Linked DNA regions of Homo sapiens: all the other regions are linked to region 2. Evidence: fine-mapped expression QTL. A gene starts in region 2. Each other region holds a variant in brackets. All regions are shown on one strand. Distances are between the middles of the regions.

Region 1 (8,000 bases), 21 kb after region 2:
ACACCTATCTAAACTTTGTTTACATCCAACTTAAGTTATGTTCTTATGATATAATTCCTTTAAATCTGAGGACTTTGTGCCAGGAGTTCGGACTCTTCAGTGCTGAATTACTAAAAGCTAGATGTGCAGGGTAGGAGTCAAGGTATTTGCTGATAGGAAAGAGGGAAGGAAGAAGAGACTAGTGAACTAGTGGTGAAATCTTAACGTTTAGACACAGGAATCTGAGTCACCAGGTGCTTTGCCAGTCATGGGCTGTTAAAATGCAAGAATACTGCTGGGGAGGGGCATTGGTGGAGGCAGATCCTTGATCAACCAGGGGAATACCTTCAATAGACATTTTTTGTTTTGTTTTGTTTTTTTGAGACAGAGTCTTGCGCTGTCACCTGGCTGGAGTGCAGTGGCGCAATCTCGGCTCACTGCAACCTATGCCTCCTGAGTTCAAGCCATTCTTGTGCCTCAGCCCCCCAAGTATCTGGGATTACAGGTGCTTGCCACCATGCCCGGTTAACTTTTTGAATTTTTAGTGGAGATGGGGTTTCATCATGTTGGTCAGGCTGGTCTCAAACTCCTGACCTCAAGTGGTCAACCCACCTTGAAAGTGCTGGGATTACAGGTGTGAGCCACCACGCCCGGCCTTCAATAGACATTTCTTTCCTTTTCTTTAATGTGTAGTGATTAATGTAGGAAGTGACTCCATCAGGATTTGGGCTGCCACTCTGGCTATATTAGTAAACATTTTTGAAAATTTGATTTTTTTTTTTTTTTTGAGAGGCAGGGTGGATGATTTGGCCATTGTTTTAATTAAACTTACTCAAATGTTATACCAGTGATCTAATAGGAACATATTTCCAATGTGAATGTGGATGAAATGGGGGGGAATAGGCCTTGATTAACATTAATCCTTTATATGTAAACCTGACTAGACTGCTCATTTCTTTTCTTTTTTTTTTTTTTTTTTTTGAAACAGTGTCTTACTCCGTAACCCAGGCTGGAGTGCAGTGACACAATCATGGCTTACTGCAAACTTCACCTGCCAGGCTCAAGTCATCTGCCCATCTCAGCCTCCCCAGTAACTGGGACTATAGGTGTGTGCCACCACACCCAGCTAATTTTAAAATTTTTTGTAGAGATGGGGTTCCTCCATGTTGCCTAGGCTGGTCTGAAACTCCTGGGCTCATGCAATCTGCTCACCTCAGCATCCCAAAGTGCTGGGATTACAGGCTTCAGCCACCACCCCAGCCTACTCATTTCTTAAAATGCCGCCTAGCTATATCATAATGTGTGTGCTTTATTATTGTTTGAAGATATGTTTCTTTTGTCTCAAATAGGTAATACATATAACATACCAATTCGTTTCTGGATTTTGGATTCTCACCCTTTCGCTCCCCCTATTTGCTTCTTGAAGCCAACTGCAAATATGGGAATCTTAGTCGGAAAACATGTGGATGCTCAAGGCAGAATATATTTGCCCTATCTCCAAAACTGGAGCCATGTAAGATCAATTTGGATTTTCTACAGAAAGCTTTTTTTTTTTTTTAAATACCTATCATTGATTCTGCTGGTACAAATAAGTATGATACTGCATTTTCTTTCAATGATATTCTTCATGTAGTCTTTGGAAGTAATTTGAAATTGAGCTCTCTAGGGTTACCCAAGTCCCAGAACCCTGATGACAACTGCCTGTACAAAGCTGCTCCCTCCAGGTTTTGGAGCCAACTGTTTGCTCCCTGTCTTTTTATAGTCGTTTCCCACTTGAGAAAGTACAGGAGGAGCTACTAGCAAGTGATTGGGGCATTATTTCCAAGTCCCTTCCTATTACAGATTTTTATGTTATATTTATTTGTAGTTTTGCCTGTTTTTGACTTTCATATAAGTTGAATCATACTGTATGTAATCTTTTGTGACATGCTTTGTTTTAACCAATATTAAGTTTTAAAAAGTCATCCACATTGATCTATATAACTGTAGTATTTGTTTTATGTCCTCATGTTATGTAATTTTGTATTCTGCATTTTTCATTGACCATTATATTGAGCATTTCTCCATGTTAAACCATTTTCAAAATACATGGTTTTTAATGGTTACCTGATGACAGCATAAGGATATTGCGTATTGTATTTACAAATTGCCCTAACGTAAGACATTTAATGATGAACATCTTTAAATGTAAATGTTTGTATATATCTAATATATCTTTGATACTTCCGTAATGATAAATCTCTTGGAGTAGAATTATTGGTCCAAAGGTTTTCAATATTTTCAAGATTTTCTTATATATTACTAAATTGGCCTCCAAAAGGGTACACAAAATGATACATTTCTATAATCAGTAGAAATCAGTGTAGGAGGGTACCTATTTTACAGTACCTTTTCTCTAATAGAAGGTATTATCCTTAAAACAAACCTTTGCTTATCTTCTATACATTGGTTTAGACAGATGTATAGTATTCTCTCATTTTTGTAAATAATTAAAAATCTGTATAAAAGGATAATTTATAATATGTTTATATGAGGCCAGGTGCAGTGGCTCACAGCTGTAATCCCAGCACTTTGGTAGGCCGAGGCGGGTGGATCACGAGGTCAGGAGATCGAGACCATCTTGGCTAACGCAGTGAAACCCTGTCTCTACTAAAAATACAAAAAATAAGCCAGGCGTGGTGGTGGGCGCCTGTAGTCCCGGCTACTTGGGAGGCTGAGGCAGTAGAATGGTGTGAACTCAGAAGGTGGAGCTTGCAGTGAGCCAAGATTGCACCACTGCACTCCAGCCTGGGCGACAGAGCGAGACTCCGCCTCAAAAAAAAAAATATGTTTATATGTACCAGAAAGCTAGTAGGGCTGGAGGACAGGGGTATATTGGAGTCCAGTGAGGTTGGAGTAAAGAATGCCTTAGGATTATCACTTTTTATTTTATAGACAGCTTATAAAAAGGTGTATAATTGTAGATGCATTTTACTTTGTTTTATGGTTTTCTATATTTTTATATAGAAAACATTTAAAAAGAAGAAAAAAGAAATAGAAAAAACAAAGGACATACTTCGGATTATCAGTAGTAGGAGTTGACATTTTACTTTGTGAACATTTATGTTATTTGCATTACCTGATGATTTAAATAAGATTGCCAGTTAAATGTGATGAATGGGGCATAATAAAAATTTGTCAGTTGGAAGGACAAAAATGGATCTTACTCTTAATTTTCAGTTGTTTGGTTATTTGAGAAATTGAAATCATTTTCATTTACTTATCAATCGTACGTTTCTTCCTTTTTGAATTGTCTGTTTCTCTCCTCCATCCATTGTTACACCCTTCTTTAAACAAAACAAAACAAAACTATCCTCGAGTAGTATTTTGACATCTGTACCATGTTGCAGGAATTCATGTATCCTGTTTCTTCTCTCTGGTTTTCATTGGCATCTCTTTTCATAATTTTGTTTGTTTAATAAATCCTCGGGGATAGTCTTATAATCTAGTGAAAGTTGTGTTTAATTTTAGTTTAGACAGTTCTGATTTTATTTTACTGTTCTGAGCCTCTTTATTATAAGCTAAAACTAGTCTCTTTTTTTGAGACAGGGTAATGCTGTCTTCACCCGTGCTGGAGTGCAGTAGCACAATCATAGCTCACTGTACCCTCAAATTCCTGGGCTCAAGTGAGTTTCCCACCTCAGCCTTCTGAGTAGCTGGGACTACAAGCATGGTCTACCATCCACTACTAATTTTAAAATTTTTTGTACAGACAGGATCTCCCTATGTTGTCCAGGCTGGTATTGAACTCCTGGGATCAAGGCATCCTCCCACCTCAGCCTCCCAAAGTGATGGGATTACAAGTGTGAGCCACAGTGCCCCCACTTAAAACTAGTCTTAAAAAGACATTACATTATTTAAATTGCCCTATTTAAAAGTACTGCAGCACCTTTAAGTTCCACATGCAGTTGGAATTATAATTATGTAGCATAATTTTATAGAACTTTGGAGCTAGAAGGAATCTAGAGGTCATCTAGGCCAGGGTTTGCAATTTCTCTGAGAGATTCAGAGGGCCGCGTTAGGCCTATGGAATTTGTTTGAACAGCACAGTTCGTTTTGTTTTACCTTGTTTTGTTTTGTTCTTAATGTAAATTTGAATGCCTATTGGCATGCTGTTTCCAATTTGCCACAATAACCGTCTCTCCAGATTTTCTTGTACTTGCCAGCTTCACACATTTAACGTTACCTGCTTGGTCCCCAAAGGTATTTGAATTCTTGGCCCTAATAGCCTCTTCTTACTTTATAAATAGTGAAACTCAGACTCTGAGAAATTAAGCACTTTTTAAATGAGCATACTACTAAATATTCCCAGGAATAATAATAAACATCTGTTTTACACTCACGGCGTATAGTTTGCATTCATTGACTCATTTATTGCTCATAACAACCATTTGGGATTTATTATTCACTTTGTATTACTGATGACACTGAAGCTCAGAAAGGTTAGTGAATTTCATCAAGGTTGCTTAACCAATTACATTAAAAGAATACAGTACCAGATTAGATACTATTAGTGTTAATTTTCTGATTTGATAACGGTTAAAAGGAGAATGTCTTTTTCTTTTAGGAAATATACATTAAAGTACTTAGGGGTAAAAGGACATCATGTTTGCAGTTTACTTGTTCAGTTTGTTCAGAAAAACTAGAGAGAGAAAGACTAAACAAGCAAATGTGATCAAATGTTAACATTTGAGTAATCTAGGTGAAGAGTATATGTACTATTTTTGCAACTTTTCTGTAAGTCTGAAATTATTTCAAAATGAAAAGTTAAAAAAAGGAGAGTTCCTAAAC[C/A]TAGGTATTCGGCTATTAAGCATATTCATGCTATTTTTCTACTTTTGGGAAATGTTGAATTAGCATTTCTTCTTCCTTTATTTTTCAGTTAAAAGTATTCAGTAATTTTTCATGAAAAGCATTACAACAGTTAAAAGTATCATATAATGTGTATGATGATTTTTGAAAAATGAGAACATGATTGAATGCTTCTTTTTGACTAACTCTAAAAGAATGTATAGGTTAAAAAAGATTTTTTGTTTGTTTTGTTTGGAGATGAAGTCTCATTCTGTTGCCCAAGCTGGAGTATAGTGGTGCAACCATAACTCACTGCATCTGAAACTCCTGGGCTCAAGTAATACTCCTGCCTCAACAAAGGTAGTATTCTTCAGCAAAATTTTTGTGTAACTTTTCTGTTTTTTGTGTATTCTACAGCCTAAATCTGTCATTGTTGGATTAATTAAAGAAATGATTGCCAAGTTTCAAGAGGAACTTCCCATGTATTCTCTATCATCATCTGATGAGGCACGGCAGGTAGACTTGCTAGCCTATATTGCAAAAATCACTGAAGGTTTGTATATTTGTCAGGCAGATTATCTTGAGAGTTATGAGTTACCAGTTTCTCACTAAACTCCTTTACTTTCTGCCACTTGATTTTTATAAATAAATTTGTGTGCGTATGTACATCTGTTTTTGAAATAAGAAATTCCTGTGCCTCAGGCCAGGCGCAGTGGCTCACTCCTGTAATCCCAGGACTTTGGGAGGCTGAGGCAGGCAGATCACCTGAGGTCAGGAGTTGGAGACCAGCTTGGCCAACATGGTGAAACCCTATCTCTACTAAAAATAAAAAAAGTAGCTGGGCGTGGTGGCAGGTGCCTGTAATCCCAGCTACTTGGGTGGCTGAGGTGGGAAAATTGCTTGAATCCGGGAGGCAGAGGTTGCAGTGAGCTGAGATTGAACAACTGCACTCCAGCCTGGGCAACAGAGCAAGACTCCATCTCAAAAAAAAAAAAAAAAGAAAAAAAAAGTAATTCCTTTGCCTTTATCACAGGGTATTACCATGTAATTCCAATAAATATTATTTATTTTTTTATTTTTTTGAGATGGAGTCTCGCTGTGTCACCCAGGCTGGAGTGCAGTGGTACCATATGGGCTCATGCAACCTCTGCCTCCTGGGTTCAAGCGATTCCCCTGCTTCATCCTCCCATGTTGCTGGGACTACAGGCATGCCCAGCCAATTTTTGTATTTTTGATAAGAATGAGGTTTTGCCATGTTGGCCAGGCTGGTTTTGAACTCCTGACCTCAGGTGATCCTCCCGCCTTGGCTTCCCAAAGTTCAGGGATTACAGGCATGAGCCACCGGGCCTGGCCAGGTTTCTTAAAGTGTAAAGAATTGGTCTTAAACAGATAAAACAATTCTTGTTCAAAACCACTTGCTGTATATTAATGATCCCAAACTTTTTTTCATGATATGTATATGTGGCTTGTTGGCTTATTCAATATATTGGATCAGAATATCTATGATTCTCATCAAGAATAAAGGCAAATACCTATGTTTGAAACATTTGGTAAGGTGTTAGACATATTTTTTTATTGTAGACCAGAGCAATGAGTTGGAATATTTTTCAGAATTATGGAAATCCTACTTTTTTAGAGTCTTATACAATATTTTAAAAATGTTTAGAAAGATACATTCTCTTTAGAAGGATAATTTCTATTTAGTCGACTATTTAATAGGAAACGTCTGCCTTCCTTGCATTCATTTGTTCAGTAGTATTTTTTGCCCATTATGGACTAGCACCATATTTTCTCTCTAAGCTATGAAGCCTGCTATATATTTTTTTTAAAGATCCTAAAAAAATTCTTGATATTTTTGAATTCTCAGGATAATTCACCTTTCTTTCTAGGTGTTTCAGATACAAATTCAAAGAGCTGGGCAAATCATGAGAATAAAACAGTCAATAAAATTACTGTGGTTGGAGGTGGAGAACTCGGTATTGCCTGCACATTAGCAATTTCAGCAAAGGTATGTAAACATAGTGGTTATAAATACATCTATCATAGTGCCACACTTCTAGGCAGGTTGTGTTTTACACACCAAAAAATGCCTTCATTTTGTCGTGGGAAAACCTTATTTTGGCTTAAAATATATTTAGTAAGTTGACAAAAAAGTTGAAAGCTTTCATCAGTGATGTTGCCTTTTAATTAGTAGGTTTAAAAAAGTGATTTGAACAATGGGCTTATCCTCATCCAAGGGAAAGCTCAATTTGACATTCATATGACTTAATCACAAATTCTTTTGTATTTTCTGAATCATGCCACTTTAATTAAACTCATTTAATGTAGTAATTTTAGCTCTTTCTAAAATTGGCTTTTTTTTTTTTAAAGATGGCCTTTTCTTACATAATTACTTTCTTTTAGGATCACAGTTTCTGAGTTGATATTTAATACTAGTTTAGGGTTTGTTTTTTTCATCAGTCCTTTTTACTAGTGTCTGCATAAATTGTTTGCAGGAAAGCTTAAATGCCCTTCCAGAGAGGTTCAAAAGACCTGCCTGCCTCCCTCCAGAGCCTAGTATCATGATAACAGCATGTCTTTTGTCATTTGAGAGATGTAGCCCTGAATAGAATAGCTGTACCTCTATATATTTATTTGGTGGCTGGCATTAGTTTTTCTTTTCTATATATATTTGATTGTTTTGCCATCTAAATTCTTCCCTTTCCATTTAAGACTCACATATGTCTTGGAGGTGGGTTCTACTGCAGCAAATAATTAAATTATATCCATGGAGCTAGAATATCTTAAAAGCTGGCTGCTCAGAGTTAAATATGCCAACTTTTGGCATGCTGTAGTTTTATTTCTTTCACCCTCCATTTGAATACACTATCACCTCTTTTTTTTTTTTTTTTTTTTTAGGTGGAGTCTCGCTCTGTTACCCAGGCTGGAGTGTAGTGGTACAATCTTGGCTCACTACAGCCTCCGCCTCCTGGGTTCAAGCGATTCTCCTGCCTCAGCCTCCAGAGTAGCTGGGACTACAGGCATGCGCCACGACGCCCAGCTAATTTTTGTATTTTTAGCAGAGACAGGGTTTTGCCATGTTGGCCAGGCTGGTCTCGAACTTCTGACCTCAAGTGATCCACCTGCCCTGGCCTCCCAAAGTGCTGGGATTACAAGTGTGAGCCACCGTACCTGGCCTGCTATTACCTCTTAAT
Region 2 (8,307 bases):
ATGAATGAGATTCAACCCCTATTTGCCAGGGCCTTACAGTATCTGAGGACAGAAAGAGGAGTGGAGATGGAGGTAGACAGGTACAAAAGTATAATAAAACACTCCTGGCAGCTACTAAGGTATGAGGCAAGGAAGAAGACAATGTACTTGGGGAAGAGTGAATGTTTCAGCCTAACTGGATTATAGGATCTAATAGCACCAGTTTCAGGAGATGAGGGTAGCCTGGTGGTCAGGATGGAAGTCAAGGGAGAGGCTTAAAAAAAAAAGCCAATTTCAGTACTACACAGCCTTTCTCTTGTAACTGCATAGCAATATAAGCACATAATTCAGACTTTGTAGACCTTTTTTTTTTTGATGGAATCTCACTCTGTTGCCCAGGCTGAATACAGTGGCAAGATCTCGGCTCACTGTAACCTCTGCCTCCCAACTTCAAGCAATTCTCCCTCCCTCAGCCTCCCAAAGAGCTGGGATGAAAGGCACCTGCCGCCACATCCAGCTAATTTTTGTATTTTTAGCAGAGATGAGGTTTCGCCATGTTAGCCAGGCTGGTCTCGAACTCCTGACCTCAGATGATACGCCTGCCTGGGCATCCCAAAGTGCTGGGATTACAGGCATGAGCCACCACACCTGGCTGATTTCCTAGACTATTATTAATCACAAAGTGTCATCACAATTTCACCCACAGTGAGAGGCACTATAACATGTAGTTTAGGAAGACAGTCTTTGACATCATCTTCTGCAGTAATTTAACCTTAGTCTTTGGTTTCCCTATCTGTAAAATGGAGACAATTATATACATATCCTCTATTTCACATTTACATTCTTTTCAAATAGGTGTGTTAAAATCAGTATGTATGTTTAATTTTGTAGTTTTCTTCTCCCCCCAAAAGCTATCATTAATACATCTCTTATTCAACAGAACCTCAGAAACAAGTAAAATAGGTAATATAACAATACACCTCAATTTTCTTATCAGTAAAATTGAGGTAATAATTCTATCCAGGTCATAGGGTCTTATGAAGATGAACGGAGATAAAGCACATAAAACTCTTAGCAGTATACCTTCCACAAAGGAAATGCTACATACACACACACACACTCACTCACTCACACTCTCTCTGGCATAAAGTGTGCATAGTGACTAGACCAGAAGAGAATTGGTTTGGTTGGAAGGCCTCTTTCATAAAAGGCTCTTTCATAAAAGATGGAAGAATCTTGCTCTGGCCTTGCTGCTAACTGGTATCTTTTCCTTATACCACGGATTTCTGGCAGGATCTATTAGAATTTGGAGCCCCTGGCAGTTCTACTGTTTTAAGGTTGGTTAGATCTGGCTGAGATGCACTTAACAGCCCTTCTATCAGCTTTTCTCTGTAATCTTCCTCCTACCTTGTCTTCTGGCCTACTCTTGCCTGACACTACTGCCTCTTCACAACACTGCAGAGTTATTAATATTTTTTTAAAGCTCAGTCAGATCATGTCACTGTTCTGTTCGAAACCTCCCAGTGGCTTTCTCTTTCTCCCAGATTAAAAGCCTGAGAAAGGAAGAGGCAGGCCCTGACATCTGAGAGCTGGTCTGACACAGCTAGACTTCAGGGTTGTTAGAAGCTGGCCTGATGCTCACAGCTTGGCCCAGTTATTCTTCTGTGGGACATAATCTCACAGAACACCAACATGAGACAAGGTCAGTCAGACTATAAAAAAGGGACACAACAACAAGGCCATTTCAAAATTGTGTCTAAGCAGAGACAAGAGAGCAAGGTCACTGTGCAAGCCATGAAATACCAAACGTCCTTCTCTGCTATTATGAGTGACTGCTGCTTCTTTACTAGGTATAGCTTTATCCTCACTCTAGTCTGTCCATCTTATAGACAATACTTATTCAGATACCTAGTCACAGAAATGTCCCTGCTTTCTGACAGCACCCAATCCAGGGTGAAGCCTGGCTTTCTTGAGCCCTCCCGCAAATCGCCCAAATTCTATAATAGGTTCTCTCACCCTCACCAAGCTGTCCCAATGGTCCTCCACAACACCTGCTTCCTCACTGCAAGAACTATTAATAATGAACTCAACTTGTTTAAGCACAGGTGTGTTCCTGATGGTCTCTGGCTGGAGGGCAGGGACAGGCCAGAGTCCTTACAATTGTCTACAAAGTCCCACAGTGGTTCTTGGACTTCATCACCCATCAGAATCATCTGGAAGAATTGTTAAAAGAGAATTGCTGGTCCCCAACCCCAGAGCCTGTGATTGAATAAAGCTGGGGTTGAGGTCTTAGCATCTGCATTTCTAACAACTCCCAGCACCTGAGGCTGCAGATCTGGGGCTCACACTAGAAGACTCACTTCTCTAAACCACTTGTTCCCCCGTCTTATTTCCCTGACTTAGCCTCCTTGTCTCCACTCCCATCTTACTTCATTCTACTCCAGCCACACTGGCCTCCTTGCTGTGTTGAGCCTCCCTGGGCACATGCCTTAGGCTACTGCTTTGTCTGCACTCGGATTCGTAACACTTACTCCCTCACCCCTCAGTGAGACCTACCCCAATCTCCCTACCCTTTTCAGAATTTATTCTCCACAACACGTAATCAACCTTCTGACATGCTGAATAATTTACTTATTACATTTATTGTTTTGCTCTCTCTCTGCTAATAAAGGAATGACACCCTTAAGACATCAGCTATCTGAGTGTATTTTGTTCACGGCTGTATCCTGAGACCTGGAAAAATAGCTGGCAAGTAGTAGATGCTCAACAAAAACTTTCTGAATGAATGTTCCTTCCAGCTTTTCAGCTTCTTCTCCTGAGTCAGGGCAGCACTCCCTTCAGATCTTCCTATAAATACAATCTCTCTCCTATATGTCCAACCTCTTGACAATTACAATATCCAGCTCCTGGGACTTTTCGCTTCAGTGGCTCAGGCCAGGGATACAGGGCAGGTAAGTCAGCCATGGGCCAAGGAGATCAAACAACGCCAGAAAATTACTGTATCCTGCATCTCTTCTTCACCCACCTTCTCCAGATGACCTTATCCACCCATCTCCCTCCTCTCTTGTTTTCCAACTATTTGTTCACCTGGATTTCTCCTCTCTTTGACCACCAACATTGTTATGGCACCCCTAAAAAAAATAAAAAAAGCAACCACTCTCCCCGTGCTAAGCCACCCTCATGCTGGGGCTGTCCTATCTCCGCTTCTCCGGCAAGGCTCCTCCTGACTTTGTTTTTCCTTTCTACTCCCTGAAATTTTGCTTCTGAAGTTCCATTACCGCCTCCTTCCTAAATTCAACTGCAATTTTCGGTCTTGCTCTTTCCTGATACACTGTGGAATTTAATACATCTGTCTGGAAACTCTTCAAGAACACCGCGTGTTGCCTCTACCTCCTTTAGTGCTTCTACTCCGGTCCTTCCTAGTCTTCTCTTCATAAGTGTCCCCAAGTTTCCTTCCAGGAAGATGGGTCGTGGTTTCCTTGACGCCAATGCGTTTCTGGCCGTGCCCTCGTCACTTGCCCACTCCGGGGTCACGAAGGAGAGGCCCCGGATTCCGGGCGCAGCCGCGGCTGAGCCCGGGGCGTTGAATGCGGGTGGAATTTCCAGTCTGGGAAGGGGCGGGGCCTTGGACCGCCGGGAAGTTTGGTCCTCAGCGGCTTCCGTCCTGCAGCAAGTCCGGAAGAAGGTCCGGGGGCTGGAGTCCTGGGACCTAGCTCGGGACCGGCCTGGAGATGGAGTTCGACTGCGAGGGCCTGAGACGGCTGCTTGGCAAGGTGCGGGCAGTCCGCTGGGCCAGTTTGGGTCCTCAGGGTCTTGCGGGGGGTGCCTCTGCCTTTGGCCAGGTTGCCTCCGTTTTGCGTTTCCCGGCTTGTAGTGGGGCTTGGAGCCGGGGCGGCTGGTCTGAAACCGGCTATGGGGCGCGGCCCCAGGGAGGCTGAGGGGACCTGGATTCTGATTTCTCCCGCAACTCTGAGGTTTCCCAACCTCCACCTGGTGCGAGCCCTCCTCATACCCCCAGCTTCACTGACCTCAAACAGCTCCCAGCACACGCCTAACCACGCCTTTCTCTCTTTCTCTCTGCTGAAATGGTCTGCCTTTTTTTTCTTTTTTCTTGAATTGCAAAGCTCATCCTTTGTAAGACCCAACTCAGTCACTCCCTGTAAGATTGAATCAACCCTTCTGTTTTGAAAGATATCGATTATCACATTGTGGAGTAATTATGTATTTACAAACCGTAATCTTGCTGTGAGCCCCTTTGACTGCAGACATTGTGCTTTTGTATTCCCTTCCTCTAGCCACTATGTTTGACAACACCATAGGTACTAAGTAACTGTGCAGTGAATGAAAGACCTGAGTAGATTTAGAGATGAAGACAGAGCTTGAAGGCCCTGGAGAGATCTTAATGTTGGAAGGCTGGGGAGTAGGCGGGCCGACCTAGAAATCTGACCTATATTTCTGAGACCTGACTAGCCTGAGTTTCCGGTGTACAATCTGAGGGAATCCCCGCCAATTTTCTAGTTAAGAAGACTAGTTTTCACCAGTTTCCTAGTTAAGGTGGTTTTTTGTTTTTTGTGTTTTTTTTTTTGACAGAGTCTTGCTCTGTCCCCCAGGCTGGAGTGCAGTGGTGCGATCTAGGCTCACTGCAACCTCCACCTCCCGGGTTCAAGCCGATTCTCGTGCCTCAGCCTCCCAAGTAGCTGGGACTACAGGCGCGTGCCACCATGCCTGGCTAATTTTTGTATTTTAGTAGAGATGGGTTTTCACCATGTTGGCCAGTCTGGTCTCGAACTCTTGACCTCAAGTGATCCACTCGCCTGAGCCTCCCAAAGTGGTGGAATTACAGGTATGAACCACCGCACCCGGCCTTAAATAATTCTTAATGCTTCTTAAGACTTCCTAATGCAGAAACCATAGTTTATGCCATTTTTGTTATACTTGCCTCTTTCTTTGTTGGGGCAGTTTACATACCCGTGGGAGGTTTTGAAGTCCTAAGATTGAAATTGTTTATGTAAGTGACTTGAATGAATTTATCTACTGCGACAGGTGCAGATCTTGTAGGAAGAGAAGTATCATAATGCTACCCTTTCTGTCTCCTCTTCAGAGCATGTGAAATTAAAAGAACCATTCAAGTTTTAATGTGCAGAGGATGATGGATTGTCCGATGGGAAGAATTGTTCAAGTTAAGATTCAAACATAGAGCATATTTTTGGTGGCACTGGAATGAAGGAAAAGAAGAGAGACAATGGTTTTTTCAAGGGTGAGAGTAGAATAGTAGAGGATTTTTTTTTCCCCATCAGTGCATAGCATAGAGTCTGGCACATAGGTAGCTTATTATTATTATTACTGTTTGTTTTGAGACGGAGTCTCGCTCTGTCACCCAGGTTGAAGTGCAGTGGCGCGATCTCTGCTCACTGCCATCTCCGCCTCCTGGGTTCAAGCGATTCTCCTGCCTTAGCATCCTGAGTAGCTGGGACTACAGGCGCCCACCACCAAGCCCGGCTAATTTTTTTTGTATTTTTAGTAGCGACGAGGTTTCGTCATATTGGCCAGGCTGGGGTAGCTTATTATTAATAAGTATTTGTTGGCTGTATAAATTAAGGAAACCAATCAGAAACAAGTCAGTGCAGCAAATATATGAAGTTTCCTGACCATTCACTGCAGTCTGCAAATAATATTGTTTAATATCTAGAAATAATTTTAGTCTAGGCACAGTTACTCATGCCTGTAGTCCCCGCTACTTGAGAGGCTGAGGCAGGAGAATAGCTTGAGCCCTGGTGTTTGAGTATGCAGAGAGCTATGATTGTGCCACTGCTTGCCAGCCTGGGAGACAGAACGAGACCGTGTCTCTAAAAAGTAGAAATAAATGTAAGGCCAGGCACGGTAGCTCACGTCTGTAATTCCAGCACTTTGGGAGACCGAGGCGGGTAGATCACCTGCGGCCAGGAGTTCGAGATCGGCCTGTCCAACATGGTGAAACCCCATCTCTACTAAAAATACAAAAAAATAAGCCAGGCGTGGTGGCCCGCTCCTGTAATCCCATCTACTCGGGAGGCTGAAGCAGGAGAATCACTTGAACCTGGGAGGTGGAGGTTACAGTGGCCCAAGATCGTGCCACTGCACTCCAGCCTGGGCAACAGAGGGAGACCCCATCTCAAAAAAATAAAAAAAAATGAATTTAAAATTTTTTAAAACTTAGAAATAATTTTGTTGCAGAAAAAATCGATGGAGAAGTGATCAGTACATTAAAAAATTAAGCAACTATGGAGAAAGTAAAAAATCTAATTAAATAGATATCCCAGTTTCATAGATGTGAAGATTGTCAGTTCTCTCCAAATTTATCTATAGGGTCAATGCATTTCTTGGAAACTTCAAACTGATTCTAAAATTCATTCAGAAGAGCAGAAGGCCAAGGATAACCTTGACATTATTATGGAAAAAAAATAGATATGAGGGCTGGGTGTGGTGGCTTACGCCTCTAATCCCAGCACTTCGGGAGGCCGAGGTGGGCGGATCACTTGAGGTCAGGAGTTCAAGAGCAGCCTGGCCAACATGGTGAAACCTCGTCTCTCCTAAAAAATGTAAAAACTGGGCATGGTGGTGGGCACCTGTAACCCCAGCTACTTGGGAGGCTGAGGCAGGAGAATCGCTTGAACCCAGGAGACAGAGGTTGCAGTGAGCTGAGAATGCGCCACTGCACCCCAGCCTGAGCCACAGAGCAATACTCTGTCTCAAAAAAAAAAAAATAATAATAATAAAGAAGGAAAGAATAGATGATAGATTTGAGGACCTGCTCTACCAAATATCAGTACTACGGCAAGTAAAATTTAGTGTGGCATTGGTGTGGAATAGACTAACCAGTGAAACAGACTAAAGGGCTTAGAATCGTAGTCACACATGTTTGGAAATGCAATATAAAACAGAAGACATTGCAGATAAATGGCGAAAGGAGAATGGAGAGACAAGTGAATATCCACATGAGAAAAATGAAATTGTACCTTGTATCCCTGCCTTACGCCAAACATAAAAATTTCCAGTGGATTAAAGACCTAAATGTAAAAGACAACTTTAAAACCTAAAAAGATAAATGTTATAGGCTCAGAATATGCAAACCGTTTTAAAATAATACACAAATAAGAGACAAATTCAACTGTATTAAAATTAAGAACAGAAGACACCATGAAGAAAGTGAAGAGGCAGCCAGGTGTGGTGGCTCACACCTGTAATCTCAGCACTTTGGGAGGCCAAGACAGGCAGATCTGTTGAGTCCAGGAGTTTGAGACAAGCCTGAACAATATGGCAAGACCCTATCTCAATTTTTTTAAAAAGAAAATTAAAGAAAGTGAAGAGGCAAGATACAAACTTAGAGAAGCTATCTGTAGCACACATAACTGACAAAGTATTGGTATCTAAAATATATAAAGCATGCCTACAAATCAATATTAGAACCAATAAATAGGCCAGGCATGGTGGCACACACCTGTAATCCCAGCACATTAGGAGGCTGAGGCATGCAGATCACGAGGTCAGGAATTCAAGACCAGCCTGGCCAACATAGTGAAACCCTGTCTCTACTAAAAATACAAAAATTAGCCGGGCATCCTGCAATGGGCCTGTAGTCCCAGCTACTCAGGAGGCTGAGACAGGAGAATCGCTTGAACCCGGGAGGTGGAGGTTGTGGTGAGCTGAGATCACGCCACTGCACTCCAGCCTGGGCAACAGAGCAAGACTCCGTCTCAAAAAAACAAAGCAAACAAAAAAGTAAATAGATAATTGGGCAAAAGATATAAATAAGCATTTTTTAAAAACAGGAATAAAATCACTAATCACATTTCAATTGTTAGTAGCCACATGTGGTTTGTGGCTATCATATTGGACAATGTATGTGTAGATTATTTCCATTATGGCAGAAAGCTTTGTCAGACAGTTCTGTATCATAAGTGGGTGGGTCAATTCACCAGTACTTATTATTCTGCAAAAAGCGTGTGCTTTTTCTTTTTTTTAAAGAGACAGAGCCTTGCTCCGTCTCCCAGGCTGGAGTGCAGTGGTACCATCATAGCTTACTGCAGCCTCAAACTCTTGGGCTCAAGTGATCCTCCTGCCTCAGCCTCTGGAGGTAGCTAGGACCACAGGCAACATCACCACATCTGGCCAATTTTTGTTTTTATTTTTGTAGAGACAGTGTCTTGTTGTGTTGCCCAGGCTGGTCTCAAAACTACTGGCCTCAAGTGATCCTTTGTCCTTGACTGTCCAAAAGTCTGGGATTACAGATGTGAGCCACCATGCCCAGCCAATAAGTATATTCCTTCGTTTATATTAAGTGTTACATTT
Region 3 (8,000 bases), 100 kb after region 2:
AAGGACCTGTAAAGTTTGGAAGTTCACAAAACCACCTGCACTTCTGACACTCATTGCAAGTTCATGGTTTCCCAAGGCCACCCTAAAGTTCTATAATTATCTAGAAGGACTTTAAAAGCTCACTGAAAGCTATTATACTCACAGTTATGACTTATGGCAAAAGATACAGATTAAAATAGGCTGAGGAAAGACACGTGGGCAACCCAGAAAGTTTCAAGTGCAAAGCTTCTAGTTGTCTTCTCCCAGTGGAGTCATAGGCAGTGCTGACTTTTCCCAGTAACAGTATGTATCATTATGCATGGAGTATTACCCACCAAGGTAGCTCACCTGAGCCTTGGGTCTAGAGTTTTTATCAGGACTTGGTCATATAGACACCATTGACTGCCTGTGAGGCTGACCTTTAGTCTCCAGCTCCTCCAGAGGTTGAGCTGTTACCTATCACTGCATGGCCCAGACCCCCCCATAAATCACACTGTTAGACTGTCTGGTGTAGATAAAGAACACTCTAATTAGTCAGGAAGTTCTGAGGGCTTAGACATCACCTCCAGGAGCCAAGGGCAAAGGCGTGGCCTCTCTGGGTAAAGTTAATTCTTTACTACACAGAACCAAGCTGTAAGGCATTTTGCCTTATTTTGCTTGAACTTTAAAAATATCCGAATACAGGAGCTGCTGCTACCGTCGCTGCAGCCACGGCAGGCACCGCCACCGCTGCCAGAGGAGTGGGCTTGGGAAAGAAGTGGTCACCTCACTTGGAGCTTTGCTCAGAAGCATCCTCGTCCCCTGCAGCCCTCCCACGGGAACGACTGGATAAAAGTGAGCTGGTACAGAAAGCCAACTCACTGAGCAGGCTGAGCGCTATGATGATATGGCTGTAGTCACGAAGGCAGTCACAGAACGAGGCATGAATACTCCAACGAAGAGAGAAATCTGCTCTCTGTTGCCTACAAGAACATGGTTGGTGCCCGCTGCTTTCCTGGCATGTCTTCTCCAGCATTGAGCAGAAAACAGAGGAATGAGAAACAGCAGCAGATGGGGAGAGAGTAGCATGAGAAGATAGAGGCAGAACTGCAGGACATCTGCAATGACGTTCTGGAGCTGTTGGACAAATATCTTGTTCTCAATTCTATACAACCATTTTCTATTTGAAAATGAAAGGAGATTATTTTAGGTATTTTTCTGAAGTGGCATCTGGAGACAACAAACAAACCACTGTGTGGAATTCCCAGCAGGCTTACCAGGAAGCATTTGAAATTAGTAAGAAAGAAGAAATGCAGCCTACACATCCAGTTTGACTTGGTCTGGCACTTAATTTCTCAGTCTTTTACTATGAGATTCTAAACTCTACTGAAAAGGCCTGCAGCCTGGCAAAAACAGTATTTGATGAAGCAATTACTGAATTGGATACACTGAATGAAGAGTCTTATAAAGACAGCACTCTGATCATGCAATTACTTGGGACAGTGTTACTCTGTGGACATCGGAAAACCAGGAAGATGAAGGAGATGCTGGGGAGGGAGAGAAGTAATGTTTCTTGTGCTTTGTAATCTGTTCAATGTCACTCTGTACCCTCCACGTATATCCCTTGTGTGGTAAAAAATAATTGTATGTTGACTTTGGATTTTTCACAGCCTCAGCCTAGCAAAAATGGTTCATGGGATAAACAGCTGGTGTTTGTATTCTAAAACTCAGATTGGTCACATAAATGCCACGGCATTCTGAAGTTTTGATTTTGATTAACATTGACAGGATTACTGTGTGTTTAATTTTTTTTAATTCAACACTGTGATTATGGGGTTTTGTAATTTAGCAAAACTCTTACTTGTAGAAAAAATAGACCTGAATTATGTGTAACTTTTTGGAAAGTTTAATCTGATACCAGAATCATTGAAATACAATTCCATTGTAAAGTTGTACAGAAGGTTATAGAGATTATATTATGATGCTAGAACCTGGAGTGAGACACACATCATTTGGCATTTGAGTTTAATGGTAATTCATAGTAATGCTGCCTGTTGTTTGGCACTTAAAGACACTTGACCTGTTTGGGCTGTTGCCACTCAAAAGTTCATGACCACAGATGTCCACAGTGTCTTCCTCTGAAGAAACTCGAATCCTGAAATTTAAATTCTTTGTGGCAGATAACTGGCTTATGACACCTTGAAAAGTCCAAGTGCTCATATAACACACCTGACTAAATCCCCTTTTCTACTGCAGTGTGTTCACTTTGTTACCAATTTGCAACTTGTGCTTCAATAATGGAATCTATTTTCATTGTTAACACTGAGCTAAAGAAAAGCCATGTGTTTTATGAATGACCTTATCTGTTTCCTGGATAATACCTTTAAGAATAATCTTCTGAGTCAGGCATGGTGGTGTAGGCATATAGTCCCAACTACTTGGGAGGCCGAGGCAGGAGGATCGCCTGAGCGTAGGAGTTTAAGGCTGCAGTGCCCTGTGGTTGCACCTGTGAAATAACCGCACTCCAGCCTGGACAACGTAGGGAGACCTCATCTCCAAAAAAAAAAAAAAATAGAATGATGTTCTGTAGAGATTGCCTTTCACTTGAGGAGTACTGAATTTCCTGGCTTGGGGCTTTTAAATTTTGAAATCAAAACATTCTTTCCCACCATCCTTTTTTTTTTTTGAGATGGAGTCTTGCTGTGTTGTCAGGCTGGAGTGCAGTGGCATGATCTCGGCTCACTGCAACCTCCGCCTCCCGGGTTCCAGCGATTCTCCTGTCTCAGCCTCCCAAGTAGCTGGGACTACAGGCACGCACCACCACGCCCAGCTAATTTTTGTATTTTTAGTAGAGATGGGTTTTCACCATGTTGATCTCGATCTCTGGACCTCATGATCCACCCGCCTTGGCCTCCCAAAGTGCTGGAATTGCAGGTGTGAGCCACTGCGCCCGGCCCCCCATCATCCTTTTTGACTGTTGACTTTGGTTTTCCCTTCCCTCCTCTCTAAATTTCTGTCCTTCTGCTTCCTTCCTTTTTTTGCTTTTTGAATTCTATCTTTACCTGTCTTTTGTTCACTTTTTAATGCTGTATATGGGCAGGGGTGAGAGACATTAGTGAGCAACTTGGTGAGCAAGCCTGGCTTTAAAGACTTGAGAAGAACTTCTAGCACCAGAGCTCTGTCTTCCTCCAGTTCTCAACACGGTGTTGCTCTTTAGTCATACCAGGATCTGAATCAAAAAAGTATTTTTAAATATCCCTGACTTCTCCCTGTATTGAGGCTGGCCCTGATCATGCTTTTTAGTGCCCCTCACCAGGTCTCCCAAGTGCACTTATCCAGCTCAACTCTCAGAT[G/A]TGTTTTAACGAGACCCTATATTCAGGGAAGTTGTGTGGACACTGCAGTGGAGAGAATTGATAATAGGCCTATCAGTCTCACAATATCACCCCTCTACCTTTAACATTCCATCTAGCTGTAGAGTCCATCTGTTTGTCCATCTGCTGAAATGAGAAAAGAAAACCTCATGCACTGATTTAAAACAAACCAAAAAAAGAAAAAAAACAAAAATCCCTCCTTTCTAACTGAACAAAAATGTGCAGTTAATAGTTGGCCCTTGAAAATGCAGTAGTGAATGTGGAGCTAAGCCTGTTTGTATATCTGGTAGCTCTTTTCTTGCTTTGTTTTTCCTTAACCAGTATTCTGCCTAATGTTTTCTTCTGTGATGGTTATATTGTCTAGCAAGCACACCTGTGGTTGTGAAAATAGTATAGCAAAAAAGAAAAATCCTGTTACTGATGTACTAGGTTTGTGTATGTCTTTTAAACAGTTCCAGTTTCACCTTACACAGAATAATCAGGAAAAGTGTAAAACTTCAAAAGTGAAATAAAAATTTTATCAGTTAAAAACAAAAAATACCCAAATACAAAAAAAAAAGATCTACCAAAAGCTTCCTGCCTAATACTGTAATTTGAAGATGAGATGGGCAACATGGAGCAATGGAAAAGGAGGATGTATGCTCACTGAAGCATGAGCTGGGCCACCACTCCTGTTACAAACCAGGAATTATAGCAGATTCCTATACTTTGAGGTTTTTTTGTTTCTTTTGTTTTTGTTTTTTGCAATAGCAAATAGGTGGGATGCCAGGCACAGTGGCTCATGCCTGTAATCCCAGCACTCCAGGAGGCTGAGGAAGGAGGATAGCTTGAGCCTGGAATTTGAGACCAGCCTGAGCAACATAGTGAGACTACCTCTCTACTAGAAAAAAAATTTTAATGGTTACAGAAACGATCTAATGTTTTTTCTTCCTTGTGTTAAGGTGTTTTAGTAAAGTTTTCTCAAATTATATTGCATTTTACATTTTTTCTAATCCTTTGAATTTGTTGTGAGAGACCAAAATTATAAATCAGTTTTCCCCTCCCTGCCAAAAATGGAAACCAAAGCAAGTCCAGGAGATTGAATTATGGTAATTATGGTAGTATTCTTTGTTAAAGAATTTGGATGTTCCCTTGGGAACAGAAATTTTTTTTTCTTTTTTTTTTTTATTATACTTTAAGTTTTAGGGTACATGTGCATAACATGCAGGTTAGTTACATATGTATACATGTGCCATGTTGTTGTGCTGCACCTACTAACTCGTCATTTAACATTAGGTATATCTCCTAATGCTATCCCTCCCCCCACCCCACAACAGGTCCCGATGTGTGATGTTCCCCTTCCTGTGTCCATGTGTTCTCATTGTTCAGTTCCCACCTATGAGTGAGAACATGCAGTGTTTGGTTTTTTTGTCCTTGTGATAGTTTGCTGAGAATGATGGTTTCCAGCTTCATCCATGTCCCTACAAAGGACATGAACTCATCATTTTTTATGGCTGCATAGTATTCCATGGTGTATATGTGCCACATTTTCTTAATCCAGTCTATCATTGTTGGACATTTGGGTTGGTTCCAAGTCTTTGCTATTGTGAACAGTGCTGCAATAAACATATGTGTGCATGTGTCTTTATAGCAGCATGATTTATAATCCTTTGGGTATATACCCAGTAATGGGATGGCTGGGTCAAATGGTATTTCTAGTTCTAGATCCCTGAGGAATCGCCACACTGACTTCCACAATGGTTGAACTAGTTTACAGTCCCACCAACAGTGTAAAAGTGTTCCTATTTCTCCACATCCTCTCCAGCACCTGTTGTTTCCTGACTTTTTAATGATCACCATTCTAACTGGTGTGAGATGGTATCTCATTGTGGTTTTGATTTGCATTTCTCTGATGGCCAGTGATGATGAGCATTTTTTCATGTGTCTTTTGGCTGCATAAGAAATTTTTAAAGAATTTAACTGCCGAAGGGGCTTAGCCCTGAATTATGGTGGCTGGTTGGGCAGAATTGTTTGAATGAAGTGAAGCAGTGATAGTGTTGATGATGCAGGATTTTCTTCTCAGTCACTCTGCAAGCCAGGGACCTCTGACGAGCGACACCCTGCCTGGGCCTCCCTCAGCCATGCTACCTGCTGCCAGAGACAGCCCTCCCATTCGGCCCACTTGGGCCGAGTCTGGCTTACCCGCTGGTTCCCGAGTTCTTGTCCTGTGCCCACAAAGAATGGGGATGCACTGACAATCAAGAGTGAGCAAGACAGGGAGTTTTATTGACTGATGAAAGAGCTTTCACTGGAGAGGGGATGCAGGGGTGGTTCCCCTACCCAAAGGTGGGAAAGTCCCCTCTAAGTGGCTGAGTCCTGCGGCTTCTTACAGGCTCAGAATAGGGGAAGGGCAGGCCATAGGTAGTATTGGAAAAGGCAACATTTGATTGGTTAAAAGGCATTATTGAGGAAGAATCAATGGGAAAGGGTGGGCAAACAGGAATAGAAGTTCTCACTCTAGGTCAGGGGTTTCATCCGGGACCAGCAGTCCAATCTTTCAGCCTTCAGGCTGTTTTTGGCTTGAAGGTGGCGTTTCACCGGGGACCCACCCCATCTGCCTCAGCATTTGGCTGCCTCCTGTTGCTGTTAATGAAATCCATAATTTTAAATATTTTACTCTATTAATGACTTTTCAGCACTGTTTCCAACCACATGCCTTCAAAGCAGTAGAGCTTCAGCAGTTCATTTTTCTGATTTTCAGGTAGAGATATTGATGAGTTCTTTCATTTGGTTTAATACCACCATACCATTTATTTTGGAGAGCGCTCATATATTTATAAACAATTTTAATAATTACCTTCTTCTACATTGCAGCAGAAGACAAGAGAAGGGAAGTTTCCAAAAAAGCACATTCTAAGGACTTCTAACCATCTGAGGCCTTTTCTCTAGGACTCCTAGAAGATAACCAATTCTGTTGATTTCAGGAGATCATTCAGCAACAGTTTGCCACCCTTAACATTTAGTATTTAGGCTGCATAATAAGGATTATAGAGACCTTTCCTTCAGAAAATAGGTTATTAAACTAATAAATATAGTGATAACTGTTAAGAGAGAGCAGATTCTAGTTGTTGTGCTGACGTTTTGGGAATTATGGTTAATGGAGGAAAGATCATTGGCAAAGATTAGGTTTCACCATAATTTAATGGTAGAGAGAAGATGGGATCTGATGTTCGAGAGCATTAAACTTTTTTGTTAGTTTAGAATGGCTTAGAGTTTGTTGACAGAGTTTGTTGATGGTTTTGGTAAAAAGCAGGATCATCTAACAGGTAATTAGAAGACCCAGGTAATTCACAAGGCCCTTCAGGAAGTTTGCTTCCCAGCTACTCGGGAGGCTGAGGCAGGAGAATCGCTTGAACTCAGGAGGCAGAGGTTGCAGTGAGCCGAGATCATGCGACTGCACTCCAGCCTGGGTGACAGAGTGAGACTCCATCTCAAAAAAAAAAAAAAAAAAAAAGGCGGCAATTAAGGTTAAATATACTTAACGTCCTCACGTAGTATTTTATAATCAAACATAATTAAAAGTCAAAATGCCATTTACACATTTGCTGATTTGGGACAATAACTGAAGAACACTGATAGTCATAAAGAATACCCAAACTTATATTAGAAAGGGGACCTTTTTGAAGAAAATATCCAGAGGATGTTTATTTGATCTGAAATATGCATGGAAATGATATAATATACTGATTAGGAAGGGACATTTGGAAGAGAATAGTAAAGAATCTGGGAATAAACAGTTTATCAGCTGTTGAATTTTTTGGATGTCATTCTTTTTTGTTCATCTGTTCTGTCCTGTTGGTAAAGGGTGAAGTAGTAAAAGTCTTACAGAGGGAAGCCTTATTAACCTGTACATTCGTTTAGGGAAACTGCCCATTCTCAGTCCTCTCACTGGCCTCTACAGTGGGCACTTGTCTCCTTCAGCTTAGCAGCGAAGCCTGATGTTGGACTTGGCCTGCACCAAATGTTTTTCCTTAGTGGAAATTATTGTGCCATTTGTTGGTTATTTAGGAATAATTGTAATTGGTAGGGACATAGCCTCTGTCTCATTGAGAAAATAACTAATTGTAGCTAATTGTTTGGGCTATGAATAGGGAAACTGGGTTTAACATGGATTAATAGTAATCTCTTGTAGGGCAAGTATTTCTGAATCAACTCAGATTTTTACATTATTTCTCATGAAACTGGTAACATAATTTTTTTCTTTCCTCACATTTTGAAAGTGTCGGTTCATATTGCCCCCTTTTCTGAAGGTTCCTGTGAGACAAATAGAAGGAACTTGGGAAGTAAGCAAGTGTTTTTTGCCTCTGTTTCCTGCAGGTCCCAGTAGGGATGGCACAATCAGCGAGGACACCATCCGAGCCTCTCTCATCTCTGCGGTCAGTGACAAACTGAGATGGCGGATGAAGGAGGAAATGGATCGTGCCCAGGCAGAGCTCAATGCCTTGAAACGAACAGAAGAAGACCTGAAAAAGGGTCACCAGAAACTGGAAGAGATGGTTACCCGTTTAGATCAAGAAGTAGTAAGTGACTCATTAAAGACTTAAAATTTTTGGATTGAATTGTAGCCATGGCAGAGTGTTCTATATGTTCCCTGGATGTTGTGGGCATAGTAGGAGTTCAGAAAATTATAGG

What was found.
Region 1: its variant is fine-mapped to the expression of UEVLD in whole blood (INTERVAL, PIP above 0.99).
Region 3: its variant is fine-mapped to the expression of UEVLD in whole blood (TOPMed, PIP 0.97).

Annotation. Positions count from the first base shown.
Region 1 is chr11:18,563,706-18,571,705 of GRCh38, reverse strand. It overlaps UEVLD (UEV and lactate/malate dehyrogenase domains), which reads left to right. Exons shown (of 12, transcript NM_001040697.4): 4 at 1,329-1,492; 5 at 5,224-5,359; 6 at 6,696-6,814. Among named protein-coding and RNA genes, the nearest start is that of UEVLD, 21 kb to the left of the region's middle. The variant C/A (reference allele first, on the strand shown) is at 4,810.
Region 2 is chr11:18,584,058-18,592,364 of GRCh38, reverse strand. It overlaps UEVLD (UEV and lactate/malate dehyrogenase domains), which reads left to right and starts at 3,631. Exons shown (of 12, transcript NM_001040697.4): 1 at 3,631-3,752. The coding sequence starts at 3,711. LOC112268073 (a long non-coding RNA gene) reads left to right here. Exons shown (of 4, transcript XR_002957242.2): 3 at 1,524-1,829; 4 at 2,085-2,272. RefSeq lists enhancers at 3,514-3,563, 3,469-3,763, 3,824-3,883, 3,924-4,073, 4,474-4,583.
Region 3 is chr11:18,483,758-18,491,757 of GRCh38, reverse strand. TSG101 (tumor susceptibility 101) reads left to right here. Exons shown (of 10, transcript NM_006292.4): 8 at 7,686-7,888. It also overlaps the pseudogene YWHABP2. Among named protein-coding and RNA genes, the nearest start is that of LDHAL6A, 32 kb to the right of the region's middle. RefSeq lists an enhancer at 5,401-5,450 and a silencer at 5,411-5,620. The variant G/A (reference allele first, on the strand shown) is at 3,312.